Regions from separate parts of the Homo sapiens genome. Here region 2 is linked to region 1. Evidence: fine-mapped expression QTL. A gene starts in region 1. The other region holds a variant in brackets. All regions are shown on one strand. Distances are between the middles of the regions. Region 1 holds the start of TARM1 (T cell-interacting, activating receptor on myeloid cells 1). Region 2 overlaps VSTM1 (V-set and transmembrane domain containing 1).

The links.
Region 2: its variant is fine-mapped to the expression of TARM1 in whole blood (TOPMed, PIP above 0.99).

The regions. Positions count from the first base shown.
Region 1 is chr19:54,077,014-54,085,739 of GRCh38, forward strand. It overlaps TARM1 (T cell-interacting, activating receptor on myeloid cells 1), which reads right to left and starts at 4,352. Exons shown (of 5, transcript NM_001135686.3): 1 at 4,294-4,352. The coding sequence starts at 4,327.
Region 2 is chr19:54,046,776-54,055,501 of GRCh38, forward strand. It overlaps VSTM1 (V-set and transmembrane domain containing 1), which reads right to left. Exons shown (of 9, transcript NM_198481.4): 4 at 4,635-4,673. Among named protein-coding and RNA genes, the nearest start is that of VSTM1, 13 kb to the right of the region's middle. The variant G/A (reference allele first, on the strand shown) is at 5,079.

The DNA of each region.
Region 1 (8,726 bases):
TGTTTCACACATGGCTGCATTTGCTCTTCCTCCTTTTTAATTTTTTTTGATAGAGACAGGGCTGGGCTGGTTAAGAACTCTTGACCATGCCGGGCGCGGTGGCTCCCGCCTGTAATCCCAGCACTTTGGGAGGCCGAGGCAGGTGGATCACGAGGTCAGGAGTTGAAGACCAGCCTGGCCAACATGGTGAAACCCCGTCTCTACTAAAAATACAAAAATTAGCCAGGTGTGGTGATGGGCGCCTGTGATCCCAGCTACTCAGGAGGCTGAGGCAGAGAATCGCTTGAACCCAGGAGGCAGAGTTTGCAATGAGCTGAGATCGCACCACTGCACTCCAGCCTGGCCACAGCGCGAGACTCAGTTTCAGGAAAGAAAAAAAAAAGAGAAAGAAAAGAAAAAACATAATATCAAGCCTGTTTATGAACATTATCATAATAATGAGATTGATCTAACTCAAAGAAAGTTAGTTAGGCCTGTGTCTCTGAGAGATTTCCTCTTTTTCCCCTGTGTGAACAGTTTTAGGTCTCAGCAGGAAAAAGGAGAAGTTACCAGGCGTTTGTGCTACTATTACATCCATGAGCCAATCCATAAACTGACACTTCAAGTTTTGCAAAAGGAAATTGTGAACACCCAAAATGTTCAAACAACGTAAGTGTCCATCCATGGAAGAATGGATAAACACAGTGTGCTCTATATATTCAATGGGATTTTTCTTCTTTTTCTTCGTTTTTTTTTTTTTTTTTTTTGAGACATAGTTTCATTCTTGTTGCCCAGGCTGGAGTGCAATGGCGCGATCTCGGCTCACTGCAACCTCCGCCTCGCGGGTTCAAGTGATTCTCCTGCCTCAGCCTCCCAAGTAGCTGGGATTACAGCTCACTGCAACCTCCGCCTTGCAGGTTCAAGTGATTCTCCTGCCTCAGCCTCCCAAGTAGCTGGGATTACAGCTCACTGCAACCTCCGCCTTGTGGGTTCAAGTGATTCTCCTGCCTCAGCCTCCCAAGTAGCTGGGATTACAGGCATGCACCACCATGCCCAGCTAATTTTGTATTTTTTAGTAGAGACAGGGTTTCACCATGTTGGTCAGGCTGGTCTTGAACTCCCCACCTCAGGTGATCCGCCCATCTTAGCCTCCAAAATGCTTTTTTCTTTTTCTTTTCTTTCTTTCTTTTTTTTTTTTTTTTTTTTTTTTTGAGGCAGGGTCTCGCTCTGCTGCCCAGGCTGGAGTGCAATGATGTGATCCTAGTTCATTCCAGCATCAACTCCCTGGGCTCAGGTGATCCTCCCACCTCTGCCTCCCGAGTAGCTGGGACTACAGCTGCACACCACCATGCCCAGCTCATTTTTGTTGTTGTTGTTGTTTTTAATATTTATTTATTTATTTTGAGATGGAGTTTCGCTCTTGTTGCCCAGACTGGAGTGCAATGGCATGATCTCGGCTCACTGCAACCTCTGACTCCTGGGTTCAAGCGATTCTCTTGCCTCAGCCTCCCAAGTAGCTGGGATTACAGGCGCCCGCCACCACGCATGGCTAATTTTTATATTTTTAGTAGAAATGGGGTTTCACCCTATTGGCCAGGCTGTTCTCGAACTCCTTACGTCAGGTCATTGCAAAAAAAGTGCTGGGATTACAGGCGTGAGCCACCATGCCCAGCCTCATTTTTGTATTTTTTGTAGAGACAGGGTTTCACCATGTTGCCCAGGCTAGTCTCGAACTCCTGGGCTCAAGCGATCTGCCTGCCTCAGACTCTCAAAGTGCTGGGATTACAGGTGTGAGACACTGTGCTCGGCCTACAGTGGGATTTTAGCCATAAAAAGGAAAGGAAATCTGACATATCCTACAATATAGATGTAGCTCGAGGATATTATGCTGAGTAAACTAAGTCAGGCAAAAAAGAACAAGTGTTATGATTCCACTCATACATCCTAGAATAAGCAAATTCATAGAGATAAAAATTAGAATGGGCTGGACACGGTGGCTCACGCCTGTAATCCCAGCACTTTGGGAGGCCGAGACAGGCAGATCACAAAGTCAGGAGATCGAGACCAGCCTGGTCAACATGGTGAAACCTTGTCTCTACTAAAAAAAAAAAAAAAAAAAAACTTAGCCAGGCATGGTGGTGAGCGCCAGTGATCCCAGCTACTCGGGAGGGAGAGGCAGGAGAATCGCTTGAACCCAGGAGGCGGAGGTTGCAGTGAGCTGAGATTAGGCCACTGTACTCCAGCCTGGGTGACGAAGCAAGACTCCATCTCCGAAAAAAAAAAAAAAAAAAGAAATTAGAATGGAGGTTACCAGGGGCTGGGAGGACCGCGGCAAATACAGAGTTATTGGTTAGAGGGTGTAGCGTTCATATTGGGAATTGTGATTGTTAATTTGATTTATCAGCTAGACCAGGCCACAGGATGCTGGGATATCTGGTTAAACATTATTTCTGGGCGTGTCTGTGAGGGTGTTTTTAGAAAGATCAGCATTTGAATCTAATGCTGAGTCGGGCAGGTTGGCCTTCCTAATGGAGGTGGGTATTCTGCTGAGGGCCAGGATGGGAGAAAAAGGTGGCAGAGCCACCACAGTGGCTCACGCCTGTAATCCCAGCACTTTGGGAGGCCAAGGCAGAAGGGCTGCTTGAGGCCAGGAGTTTGAGACCAGCCTGAGTAACATAGTGAGATCCCGTCTCTACAAAAAATTTAAAAATTACACGGGGCACTGTGGCTCACGCCTGTAATCCCAGCACTTTGGGAGGCTGAGGCTGAGGCGGGCAGATCACCTGAGGTGATCACCTGAGGGAGCTCAAGACCAGCCTGGCCAACATGATGAAACCCCGTCTCTACTAAAAAGTACAAAAAATCAGCCGGGTGTGTGGTGGGCACCTGTAATCTCAGCTACCCAGGAGGCTGAGGCAGGAGAATTGCTTGAGCCCAGGAGGTGGAGGCTGCAGTGAGCTGTGGTCATACCACTGCACTCCAGCCTGGGTACAGAGTGAGACTTTGTCTCAAAAAAAGGAAAAGGAGGGAAGGAAGGAAGGAAGGAAGGAAGGAAGGGAAAGAGAGAGAGGAAGGAAGGAATGAAGGAGAAAGAGAAAGAAAGGAAGGAAGGAAGGAAGGAAGGAAGGAAGGAAGGAAGGAAGGAAGAAAGCAAGCAAGCAAGCAAGCAAGCAAGCAAGCAAGCAAGCAAGCAAGCAAGCAGGCAAGCAAGCGGGGGCTCACGCCTGTAATCCCAGCACTTTGGGAGGCCGAGGCGGGCAGATCAAGAAGTCAGGAGATGGAGACCATCCTGGCTAACACAGTGAAACCTACGAAAAAAGCCGGGCATGGTGGCGGGCGCCTGTAGTCCCAGCTACTCGGGAGGCTGAGGCAGGAGAATGGCGTGAACCCGGGAGGCGGAGCTTGCAGTGAGCAGAGATCGCACCACTGCACTCCAGCCTGGGCGACAGAGCGAGACTCCATCTCAAAAAAAAAAAAAAGAAAGAGAGAGAGAGGAAGGAAGGGAGGAAGGAAGGAAGGAAGGAAGGAAGGAAGGAAGGAAGGAAGGAAGGGAAGGAGAAAAAGAAAGAAAGGAAGGAAGGAAGGAAGAAAGAAAGAGGTTTTAGTGTAGATAGTGGTGATGGTTACACAGCGGCCTCAATTTACTTTATAGTTATCTATTTGACACTAAATTTTTATTTATGGTATTAAGGTTTCTGGGCCAGGCACAGTGGCTCACATCTGTAATCCCAGCACTTTGAGAGACTGAGGTGGGCAGATCACCTGAGGTCGGGAGTTCGAGACCAGCCTGGCCAACATGGTGAAACACCGTCTCTACTAAAAATACAAAAATTAACCAGGCATGGTGGCGCACCCCTGTAATCCAGTTACTCAGGAGGCTGAAGCAGGAGAATCGCTTGAACCCGGGAGGCAGAGGTTGTGGTGAGCCGAGATCACGCCATTGCACTACAGCCTGGGCAACAAGAGCAAAACCCTGTCTCAAAAAAATAAAATAAAATAAAATAAAATAAGGTTTCTATTCTGAATACTTTTACTTACACACAAAAAGTCAGAGTTGATCCTGAGAAAAGGGGTAAGCCAATGAAGCCAGGTGGTGGAGGCATTCAGCAAAACTCACGAAGTTGAAACTACAGGAGTTGAAGTTTGCAGAGCACTCGTTTCCAGGGAATGTCTGCAGTGCACTCAGCAGGACGTCTCACTCCTCCCGTGTGCTCAGTAAGCCAAAGTTGATGTTATTATTTCCATCCCCAGCCCAACTATCCCACCAGTTCCATGATTTTCTGCAGTCCCAGTGGATAGCCCTGTGAGACTTACTGAAACAGAGGAGGGAAAGCAGCTTAGGGATCATGATGGCTCCTTAGCCCTCCCAGAGTCCGTCTTGGGTTCTGCAGTCCACAGATGGGAGAAGAGCTGGAGTCGTCGCTGCCTCTCTCCCACCCCAGAGTGTGGGCAGTAACAGCCTTTCCTAGCCTTTCAGTTTCCCCTCCCATATCCACATTCAGGAAACATGTTGATGTTGCTGATTGCAACATGCTCCTTACACACACCAGTGTTCGAGCACTTGACTCACAGGAAATGCTCCTCTGTCTCAGGCAGATTTCAGGCATCAAACAGGTAACCCCGAAAATGCTTCAGACTTGGCCCTGAAGGGTTCGTATTGAAGAGATGAAAGCACTTCACTCTTTTTTTTTTTTTTGAGATGGTGTCTGGTTCTGTTACCTGGGCTGGAGTCCAGTGGCACGATCTCAGGTCATTGCAACTTCAGCCTCCTGGGTTCAAGCAATTCTCCGGCCTCAGCCTCCCAAGTAGCTGGGATTATAGGCGCATGCCACCATGCCCGGCTAATGTTTGTATTTTTAGTTAAGATGAGGTTTCACAAGTTAGCTGGGCTAGTCTTGAACTCCTCGCCTCAAGTGATCCACCTGCCTCGGCCTCCCAAACTGCTGGGATTACAGGCATGAGCCACTGTGCCAGGCCTTCATCACCATTTTTTTTTTCTTTTGAGACAGAGTTCCACTCTTTCGCCCAGGCTGGAGTGAAGTGGCAAAATCTCATCTCATTGCAACCTCCAACCCCCAGGTTCAAGCGGTTCTCCTGCCTCAGCCTCCCAAGTAGCTGGGATTACAGGAGCCCTTCAACACGCCCAGTTAATTTTTGTATTTTTTAGTAGAGATGAGGTTTCACCATGTTGGCCAGGCTGGTCTCAAACTCCTGATCTCAAGTGATCCACCCACCTCAGCCTCCCAAAGTGCTGGGATTACAGGCATGAGCCACTGTGCCCAGCCAGTCATGAGCTCATTTTTTAAGTTCAGAATATTTCAGTACATATCTATCTTTATCAAATAAGAACCATTTTAAAAATAATATAAGCACCACAGCACTGTCACATCAAGAAAGTTAAGAGTACCTCCTTGATACCAGCTAATACCCATTCAGTACTCAAATTTCCCTGATTGTCTCAAAAATGTCATTTCTATCAGGTTTTTAAAGAATAAATCAGGATCCAATAAAAGTCTACAGATTGCATTTGATAATTATGTTAATTTAGCCTGGCGCAGTGGCTCATGCCTGTAATCCCAACACTTTGGGAGACCGGGGCAGGTAGATAACCTGAGGTCAGGAGTTCGAGACCAGCCTGGCCAACCATGGTGAAACCTCATCTCTACTAAAAATACAAAAATTAGCTGGGCGTGGTGGTGCACGCCTGTAATCCCAGCTACTCAGGAGGCTGAGGCAGGAGAACTGCTTGAACCTGGGAGGCAAAGGTTGCAGTGAGCTGAGATCGCACCATTGCACTCCAGCCTGGGCAACAGAGTGAGACTCAGTCTCAAAAAAAAAAAAAAATGTTAATTTGAATCAGACAAAATTTTTTATTTTTTTGTTAAAATAAGAAATCAAGCAAGTTAGTTTTTAACCATGTTTTTTTTCATCTTGCATTTGGAAGAAGAGCAAAATGCCCCGAAGTCTCGTTTTTGTTTTCGGATTTTTTGTCTTGATAGCACCTACTCTTCTTACTGTTTTGGAACATAGAAAAGTCAACAAGGCAACAAATTATAAGGAGTAAAACCAACTATAATTACAGGTGTTTCTTTGAAAGTTATTTTCACAAGATGTGGCAATGATTTTTAAAGGCTTGGGACTCTTACAAGACCCTTTTGTTCAAATAACAGTTTTGTGTATGAATTTATTTCAACAGAGAACAATTTAGTAATGTTTGTGAATATTCATTTAGTTCTCCATATTGTACCAGAAAACAAGACTGATATTCTTGTGAATCTTCTCAATTCAACTCTTTATCAAATCAGATTCCTTAAATTAGTGTTGTGACTCAGAAAAAATCTTTCTCCTTATGCAGTATCAGGGAAAAGAGGACATCTCCTATATTTCTTCTTAACATCTCTGTTGCTAACAAGGAATATGCATATTTTAAAACTAGGCTCTGGAATTTTATCAGTCAACAGGAAAGGCCTGGTAAAGTTCCATTCCACTTGGAAATGAAGAAAGGAGACCCTGATTCAAAAAACGAAAAAAGAAAGAATAAAGAATAGCTTAGGGCCAGGCAAGGTGGATCACACCTGTAATCCTAAGATTTTGGGAGGTGAGGTAGGTGGAAGGCTTGATCCCAGGAGTTCAACACCAGCCTGGGCAACATGGCCTAATCCCATCTCTACAAAAAATACAAAAATTAGCCAGGCTTGGTGGTATATACCTGTAATCCCAGCTTCTCAGGAGGCTGAGGTGGGAGAATCACTTGAACCTGGGAGGGGGAGGTGGCAGTGAGCTGAGATCGCACCATTGTACCCCAGCCTGGGCAACAAGAGTGAAACTCCATCTCAAAAAATAATAATAAAATAAATAAATAAATAATCATTCACTTTGTTAGGTGTTTATCACACCTAACCTTAAGAATATGTTACCAAAATAAAAAGTCTTATAGATGAAATCATATTATATCTGAGGTTTACTTTAAAATACTCCAGGAGAAAATTTAAAATAGACTTGGGGGAGGGGACTTATCTGTAGTTATCTGCACATAATCTACATGATTATCTCAAAGCCATCCTTTTGCTGTTGAGAATTCTGATTTTTAGCTGGGCCCATTGGCACCCAGGTAAAAAACTACATTCTTCAGTGTCACTTACAGGTAGATGTAGCCGTAAGTCTTCATCTAGGACAATGATAAATAAGCATAAATATTGTAGACAGCTTCCAAAAGGTTCTTTAATGAAGTACACTTTCCTTCCTTCACTTAACTGCCTAAAATGTGGATGTGATGACTGGTATTCTAGCGTCATCTTGAACCATGAAGATGAGATGAGGTTCAAGATGGTGGAGGGTGAGCCAGAAGTAACTTAGGTCCATAATGCTTTTTGGAGTCACTGTGCCAGCCTTGGACTGCTCCCTTCAGATTTATTCTACATAAGGGAGAAATCAATTGGTATTAGTTTTAAGTCATCATTATTTAGTTCTCTTTTGGGTTTAGGTTATCAATTACTGTGTTAACAAACCACCCCAAAACTGAGTAACTTAGAGTAACAATCTTGTTTTTTTTTTTTTTTAATCATTCCTGATCTGGTGAGATGACTGGGCTCAGTTGAGCGGTTCTTCGGTTCAATGTGATGTCTTCCTGGGCTTCAGTCATCAGGGTGGCTCAACTGAGCTGGAATCTCCAAGATGGCACTTGCAAATGGCTGGCTGTTGATGCTGGATGTTGGTTGAAAGCTCGGCTAGGACTGTTGAATGATGTACCTGCACATGGCCTCTCCATTTGATTCAGACTTCTTGGAGGATAGCATCTGGGTTTCAAGAGGGGATGTCACAAGAGAGCTTTCTAAAATAGAGAAGGCGGCTGGGCATGGTGGCTCACGTCTGTAATCCCAGCACTTTGGGAGGCCGAGGTGGGTGGATCACCTGAGGTCAGGAGTTCAACATCAGCCTGGCCAACATGGTAAAACCCCGTCTCTACTAAAAACAAAATTAAAAAAAATTAGCCGGGTGTGTTTGTGCACACCTGTAATCCCAGCTACTCAGGAGGCCGAGGCAGGAGAATTGCTTGAACCTGGGAGGCGGAAGTTGCAGTGAGCCGAGATCACACCACTGCACTCCAGCCTGGGCAACAGAATGAGACTCTGTCTCAAATAAATAAATAAATAAATAAAATAAAGAAGGCAAAAGTTGTTTGTCCCTTTAAAGACTAAGCCTGGAACTGACACAGTTTCTCTTCTTCTACAGTCTTAAGGAAAGGCCAGATTCAAGGGGAGGGAAAATAAACTCTACCTCTCTATAGGGACAGTGACAAAGAATTGGAGGCCATCTTTAGTCTGTCATGTGTTATGGTCAATGGAAATAGATATATATATATTTACTGAGTGCCTGAGTCCCACCGAGAGATTTTAATTATTTTTTTATTTTTGTTTTTTTAAGATGGAATTTTGCTCTTGTTGCCCAGGCTGAAGTGCAATGGCATGATCTCAGCTCACTGCAACCTCTGCCTCCCGGGTTCAAGCGATTCTCCTGCCTCAGCCTCCCAAGTAGCTCGGATTACAGGCAAGTGCCACCACACCCAGTTAATTTTGTATTTTTTAGTAGAGATGGGATTTCTCCATGTTGGTCAGGCTGGTCTTGAACTCTTGACCTCAGGTGATCTGCCCACCTTGGCCTCCCAAAGTGCTGGGATTACAGGTGTGAGCCACCGTGCCCAGTCGAGATTTTAATTTTTATAATGGGTATAGGATGAGGCCTGGGTG
Region 2 (8,726 bases), 30 kb before region 1:
GTCTTCGACCTTCTCTGTCTCCACTGCTTTCTGCAGGATGGAGCCAAAGATACCATCTGAGGGACACAGATATCCCACACTTGTTTAATCTATTTTCCTCCCAGCCCTTCTTCCCCACTCCCTAAAATGTAATTTTCAAGCCAGGCGTGGTGGCTCACACCTGTAATCCCAGCACTTTGGGAGGTCGAGGCAGGCAGAGCACCTGAGGTCAGGAGTTCGAGACCAGCCTGACCAACATGGAGAAACCCCGTCTCTACTAAAAATAGAATATTAGCTGGGTGTGGTGGTGCATGCCTGTAATCCCAGCTATTTGGGAGGCTGAGGCAGGAGAATCTCTTGAACCTGGTAGGCGGAGGTTGCAGTGAGCCAAGATCACGCCATTGCACTCCAGCCTGGGCAACAAGAGCGAAACTCTGTCTCAAAACTAAATAAATAATAAATAAAATAAAACGTCACTTTCACACTAATGCTGTCTAAGAGCCTGCTTCTGGTGGAGCTGAATCAGAGAACCCCTCAAAAGCAACAATTTTTTTTTTTTTGAGACAGTCTCACTCTGTCTCCCAGGCTGGAGTGCAGTGGTACAATCTCGGCTTTGGAACCTCCCCCTCTGGGGTTCAAGCAATTCTCCTGCCTCAGCCTCCCAAGGAGCTGGGATTACAAGCACCCGCCACCTCACCCCGCTAATTTTTTATATTTCTAGTAGAGATGAGGTTTCACCATGTTGGTTAGGCTGGTCTCAAACTCCAGAGCTCAAGTGTTCTGCCCACTTTGGCCTCCCAAAGTGCTGGGATTACATAAGCCACCATGCCTGGCCATAAGCAACAATTCTATCAGTGCATCTCCAAGGACTTATGAAAACAGGGCAGGAACAGCTGCTCCTGGACTCTCAGTTTCCCCAGATGGAAGCAGAGAAACAGCAGCCTTGCCTTGTCCTTTCTGTTCTCCCCTTTTCCAGCCTACGGTATCTTTCACACAGCAATTCACTAGAAATGAGAAGTACATTATTGCAAAATTCTCATCTTCATATGACCCCATAATCAGCTGAACTGGGTTCACCCTGAGATGTCCACAGATCCTGGCCAAATGTTGCATCAGTATTTGCAAATTGCCAGAATAAATCATAACTTGCTACGCTACTAAAGTCAGCGTGAGCAACAAGATACAGCCTGACACGGGGCATAAATGGAGGCACAGGCACCAGAAAGAAAGTCAAGTCTTGTGTGATAAAATTCATCTTCATTCTCTACATTGCGATTGAACATAGAGTCGTTTTCTAGTGTGTTTTAGGCATATAAATACAGGCTGGGGACATCATACCTGTGCTTACAGATATTTTACTTTTATTTTATTTATTTACTGAAACAGGGTCTCGCTCTGTCACCCAGGCTGGAGTGCTGTGGCGCAATCACAGTTCACTGAAGCCTCAACCTCCTGGGCGCAAACGATCTTTCTGCCTGAGCCTCCCAAGTAGCTGGGACTACAGGTGCACACCACCACGCCTGGCTAATTTTTGTATTTTTTGTAGAGATGGGATCTTACCAAGTTGTCCAGGCTGGTCTTGAACCCCTGGGCTCAAGTGATCCTCCTGCCTCATCTTCCCAAAGTCCTGGTATTACAGACGTGAGCCACTGCGCCCGGCAAAGATATTTTATTCTGTTTAGAATTGTGATGATACAAATTTGAACTCAAAAAGTACATTTTAAGAAATTATATAATACCCACTGGGATGGCTATAATTTAAAAAAAGAAAAGTAAGTGTTGACAAGGATGTGGAGATATTGGAACCCACATATATTACTGGAAGGAATATAACATGATACAGCCACAATGGAAAATGATTTGGCAGTTCCTCAAAAAGTTGAACATAATAGTCACCATATGTCCTAGCAAATCCACTTCTAGGTACATACTCAAGATAATTTACAGCGCGGAGACAAACAGATACTCCTACCACAGTGTTCCAGCACCATTACTCGCTTTAGCCAAGAGGTGCAGACAACACAAATGTCCATCAAAAGAAGAACGGGGCCAGGCACAGTAGCTCAAGTCTGTAATCCCAGCACTTTGGGAAGCTGAGGCGTGTGGATCACCTGAGGTCAGGAGTTCGAGACCAGCCTAGCCAACATGGTGAAACCCCCTCTCTACTAAAAATACACAAATTAGCTAGGCATGGTGACGGGCGCCTGTAGGTCCAGCTACTCAGGAGGTTAAGGCAAAAGAATCACTTAAACCTGGGAGGCGGAGGTTGCAGTGAGCTGAGATTGTGCCACTGCACTCCAGCCTGGGCGACAGAGCAAGACTCCGTCTCAAAAAAACAAAAACAAAAACAAAAAAAAGAATGGATAAGCAAAATGTGGTCTATCCATACAATACGATGCTTTTCACCATGACAAGAAATGAAACATTGATGCATGCTACAGTACAGACAAACTTTGAAAACATTATGCTAAAGAGAAAGGAGCTAGTCACAAAGGATCACATAGTGTATGAATCCACTTACACAAAATGTCCAGAATAGACAAAATCATAGACACAGAGAAGCATATGAATGGTTGGAAGGGCCTGGTGGGAAAGTGGGAAATGAGGAGTGACTGCTTAATGGGTACAAGATTTTCTTTTAGGGTGATGAGAATGTTCTGGAATTATGTAGTGGTGATGGTTATACTACCTCATGAAGATACAAAATGCCAGTGAATTGGACACTTTACAAGGGTGAATTTTTGGACTGTGAATTATATATCAATAAAAAAAGAAAGAAAATAAATGATACAAGAGCTCAAAATAGAAAAGCTTCTCTTCCTCCTCCCCCTCACACCTCACTAGATCTCCCACCTCGTTTCTGATACTTCTGTGTTCCTCTCTCCCATTAGATTTCATATCTTTCTCAGAAAACGTTCCTGACGTGAATTGTGTTCGTAGTGCTAGGGTAGCAGACATTTCCCAAGCCTACTATCATGGAATAAAAACGTTTCAAATAGTTATCTTGCAAGAACACTTTGGAGGATACCTTTTTGAAAACCGATTATACCAGCACAGACTGCTAGCAACAACCTTCAGCAACTTTGGCTCTTTGGAGTAGGTTGCAGGAAGATTATGACTTGCTGAAAGGAAGGATGATTAAGCATCTAGATGCCAATTTATATTCTGCATTTGGCCCTTAAAGTCTGGATGAGTTCCTGTTTCAGCCGAATGCTGCCAAAAGCTCTAACTTTTTAATTTTTTTTTTTTTTTTTTTTTTTTGGAGACAGAGTCTCACTCTGTTGCCCAGGCTGGAGGGCAGTGGTGTAATCTCGGCTCACTGCAACCTCTGCCTCCCAGGTTCAAGCAATTCTCCTGCCTCAGTCACTTGAGTAGCTGGGAATACAGGCGCCCACCACAATGCCCAGCAAATTTTTGTATTTTTAGTAGAGACAGGGTTTCACCATGTTGCCCAGGCTGGTTTCGAACTCCTGACCTCAGGTGATCCGCCCACCTCGGCCTCCCAAAGTGCTGGGATTACAGATGTGAGCCACCTCGCCTGGCCCAAAAGCTCTAATTTTTATGAGAAACTCTGAGGACAGAATCTTAGTCAATTGTTAATGAATAAGCAACATTAGAAAAAAAATTCAATATTCACCTATTTTTGAGAATTTTAGAGTTATAACAAACTCTTGATTATATATATTCCTGAAGTACCTACTCTGCGTAGGTCCTGGTCCTACTCCCCAAATGGGTCACTGAAAAATTCACCCCCATTATTCCCCAAATCCCACCCTAGTTTTTCATCATGTCATATGGCAAACAACGCACTCTGTGCTGTTTTACACACCAGCTTCTTCAGAACCCGGAAGCACTTTAGAGGTTATCTCCCCTCATCCTCCACCCCCCAAAACACAGCAGTTTCCCCAATAACATTGAGAAAATGGGCTTTAAAGTTCTTCTAGGCCGGGTGCGGTGGCTCATGCCTGTAATCCCAACACTTTGAGAGGCCGAGGCGGGGGAATTGCTTGAGGTCAGGAGTTTGATACCAGCCTGGCCAACATGGTGAAACCCCATCTCTACTAAAAACAAAAAACAAAAAACAAAACTGAGCTGGATATGGTGGTGGGTGCCTGTAATCCCAGCTATTCGGGAGGCCGAGGCAGGAGAATTGCTTGAACCCAGAACCCAGGAAGTGGAGGTTGCAGTGAGCTGAGATTGTGCCACTTCACGCCACCCTGGGGGACAGAACAAGACTCTTTCTCAAAAAAATAAATAGGCCGTGTGCGGTGGCTCACGCCTGTAATCCCAGCACTTTGGGAGGCTGAGGCGGGCAGATCACAAGGTCAGGAGTTCGAGACCAGCCTGGCCAACATGGTGAAACCCCGTCTCTACTAAAAATACAAAAATTAGCTGGGTGTGGTGGTGCGTGCCTGTAGTCCCAGCTATTCGGGAGGCTGAGGCAGGAAAATTGCTTGAATCCGGGAGGCGAAGGTTGCAGTGAGCTGAGATTGCGCCACTGTACTCCAGCCTTGGTGACAAAGCGAGACTCTATCTCAAAAAACAAACAAACAAACAAACAAACAAATAAATAAAGTTCTCCTTGTGCACTTTAAGCAAAGGTGATCATGAAGCAGATCTCATTGGGAAAAACATCTCCTTTCTAATTATCTTACCTGTTTTCATTGAGGGAGCTTCAAGTTCATCGTGTTTATCTAGAAAATAGGAGGGAAGAAAAGGAATTACACTAATCATACAGGAACCTTGGGGACAGGAGTCCTCACGTCCTACTTATAGACATCCTGTTCTTCTTTGGGAAGCAGAAAAGAGAATGGCTTCTCCATTCCCTAGATGCTCCCTGGGTCCTCAGAGCATGGACAGAGCCTCAGATTACTCTTCTTAATAGTCCTGGAGTTTGATAGTATTTTTAATAACAAAAATATTTATGAATGACCCTGCTAACGCCCCCTCCAGTTTGATTCCTTGCCAGTCTTCTCTATCTTGACAAAGAACACCATTCACCCAAATTCTTTCTTTCTTTTATTTTTTTTGAGTCTTGCACTGTTACCCAAGCTGGAGTGCAGTGGCATGATCTCAGCTCACTGCAACCTCCGCCTCCC[G/A]GGTTCAAGAGATTCTCCTGCCTCAGCCTTCCAAGTAGCTGGGACTACAGGCGCCCGCCACCACACCCTGCTAATTTTTGTATTTTTAGTAGAGACAGGGTTTCACCATGTTGGCCAGGCTGGTCTCAAACTCCTGGCCTCAAGTGATCAACCTGCCTTGGCCACTCAGAATACTGGGATTCCAGGCATGAGCCACTGCACCTGGCCTATATTTCTATCTCCACAGTGGCACCATTTAGTCTAAGTTAAAATATCACCTACTTGGCCGGGCGCAGTGGCTCACGCCTGTAATCCCAGCACTTTGGGAGGCCGAGGCGGGCAGATCACAAGGTCAGGAGATCGAGACCATCCTGGCTAACATGGTGAAACCCCGTCTCTACTAAAAATACAAAAAGTTAGCCGAGCGTGGTGGCGGGCCCCTGTAGTCCCAGCTACTCGGGAGGCTGAGGCAGGAGAATGGCGTGAACCCGGGAGGCGGAGCTTGCAGTGAGCCGAGATCGCGCCACTGCACTCCAGCCTGAGGGACAGAGCCAGACTCCGTCTCAAAAAAAAAATAAAAATAAAAATAAAAATGAAATGAAATATCACCTACTCACCAGTCCCTGGCAACCACCAGTTGCTTCTGTGAGTTTGGCTTTTTTAGACTACACATATGAGTGAGATCCTGCAGAATTTGTCTTTCTGAGTCTGGCTTATTTTGTTTAGCATGATATATGCGGAGATGTTGATGAAAGGGTATAAGTTTCCAGTTCTAAGATGAAGAAGTTCAGGTGCTCAGCATGGTGGCAATGGATGTGCTAATTAATTTGACTGTGATAATCATTACACAATGTACAGGTGGATCAAATCATCAGATTGTATACCTTGAATATATACAATCTTCATTTGTCAATTTGATATTTTTAAATTTAAAAAGTCGTATTGCCTGAAACGCACCAACTCTTACTACATCTAGTCCCTTATTTTCCAAAAGCAGCCAGAGGCCGGGCATGATGGCCTGTGCCTGTAATCTCAGATGCTTGGGAGGCTGAGGTGGGAGGATTACCTGGGCCTGGGAGGTCAAGGCTGCAGTGAGCTGTGATTGCACCACTGCACTCCAGCCTGGGCAACCGAGTGGGACCCTGTCTCAAAAAAAAAAAAAAAAAAAAAAGCAGCCAGTGACCCTTCCAGCATATAAATAAAATCATGCCATCCTCCAGCTCAACTTCATCAGTGGGTTCCTGTTCTTTCAAAGCAGACTCTAGGACCAGTTCAAACACCCACAAGATCCTAGATGCTCTAGGCCCTGCCTTATGTCCTCCTTTCTGTGTCTCAATCATTCCAGGAACACTCACACTTCTGAGACTTTGCTTTTGCTGCTCTCTCTCCCTGGAGGGCTGTTCTCCAGATATCGGTGTGGTTGGGTCATTCTCATCCTTCATGCTTGTGGCAGATAGACCCTAAGGGGGCACTCAGGAGACTCAGGAGCCCTGCTTCCTGGTGTTCATGCCTTTGTCTAATCCCCTCACCTTGAGTGTGGAGATCTGTGACTTTCTTCTCACCAATAGCTATGGCAAAGGTGATGGGATGTTATGCTCTTGATTATGTTACATTACATAAAACTCTGTTTGCTAGGGCATTTGCTCTCTCTTTCTTCTCTCTCTCTCAATCTCTCTTCTTGCAAGTGCTGCAGAATCATTCTAGCATGAATCCTACAGCTATAAAGAACCAGATATTGCTATCAACCACAGGAGTGGAGAAATGGACCCTTCCCCAGTCAAGCCTCCAGATGAGCCAGATGAGAACACAGCCCTTGTTGACACCTTGATTGCATCCTTATGAGACCCAAAGCAGAGGACTCAGCTAAGCTGTGCCTGGACTCCTGACCCACATCAACTGTGAGATAATAAATAGGTGTTTCAGGCTGCTAAATTAGTGGTAATTTGTTATGCAGCTGTAGATCACTAATACAATGCCTCTCACAGTTATTCTCCATCTATAATGTGTTTTTTAATTACTCTGATAGCTTGCTCTTATTTCTTTCTTTCTTCCAAAGAAGAATGTGAGCTCCTGTTGGCCAGAGACCTGGTCTGTCTCAGTTCCTACAATATGCTCAGGATCTACCAAAGTATCTGAATTTGTAGGGTGAATGGGCAGCTATTTTTGTGCCAGGTATTTTGCATTAATTTTTTTTTGTAATGGAAGCATTTATATGCCCATTTTGTAATAAGTAAAAAGTAGTATAATAAAAAAGTAAAAAGTAGTATAATAAAGTGATTTGCAAAGCAGCAAACAGATTGTATATGGAAGGCTGACCTGGAAAATCAACCACTGGAAATTGATACTATAGCCTGTCTTGTGATGTAATGGTACAGCTGCGATAGAGGTGAAGAAATCAGGAAACAGTAGATGATATGCCAGAGAACATAATTGGGAAATGGCAAATAATCGCGAGGCTTTTAGGGCTAAAGTGTGGGTGCAGAAATTCTTAAGACTACAAGAACGAGTTATGGGGAATACAATTTGAAATCAATATCAAAGTGATGAGCACCTTGTTGGAGTATCATTGATCAAGAGCCTCAGAAAGAGGGTAAATCAGAGGTGAAACATTAAGTATTCAGTTACTCATCATGCCCCAAGCCCAGGCTAAGTCATTGGTGTGGACCCACGGCTACTTCTACACTACACTGATGACTGTAAAGTCTCTCCAGGGATTTCCCATGATATGGCAGGACTGACCTACTGGAAGCAACTGTGGTCAGTTGAGAGGTATTGTTTAGTGACTAATAAATGAATGGATGAATGGATGGATGGATGGATGGATGGATGGATAGATGGATAGGTGGGTGGGGGTGAGTGAATGGGTGAAAGGGTGGATGAGTGGATGAATGGGTGGAAGGATGGACAAATGAGTGGCTGGGTAAATAGATGGGTAGGTAGGTAGATAGATGGATGAAGGGGTGGGTGGACAGATGAATGGAAGGGTTGGTGGTTGGATGGATTAATGGATAGATGAATGGATGGATGGATGGATGGATGGATGGATGGATGAGTTGATGGATAGATGGATAAGTGAGTGGATGGATGGGTGAATGAGTGGGTAGGAGGGTGGATGGGTTGGTAGGTGGGTAGATGGGTGGGTGGGTTGATAGATGGGTGGGTAGATTGATAGATGGATGGGTGAGTAGATAAATGGGTAGATGAAAGTGATGCAAAATTATTCTTTATCCCTCTTCCTTGGGATCTCAAGTCATGTATGTTACAATCCTCCCACGTGCATCTTCTCACTGTGGTCCTCATCATTTTTTTTTCAGTTACCTGCACCGTGCCTCCCATACTTTTCCACACAATGGGATCTCTTAGCCCCACAATCCATTATTTGCCATTCCTACATCCCTCATAGAGCACTGGACACTCTTTCTGGCTTTCCTTCTCTGGCATAATGAAATATAAATTTTCATTTATGTCTGAATAGCAACTGTGAAGCTCATTGTTTTTGTGACACCGGGGAGGTCACCTAATCTCTATGAGCAAAAAGAAGTTAGTAACACAACCACCCTCATAGGAAGTGAAGACTGAATGAGTTAGTGGAGGCAAGTTACCTGTCGTGGAGACAGGAACATAGAAAATGCTGGATACATGTCAAATGCCAGTGTTATCACTCTATCC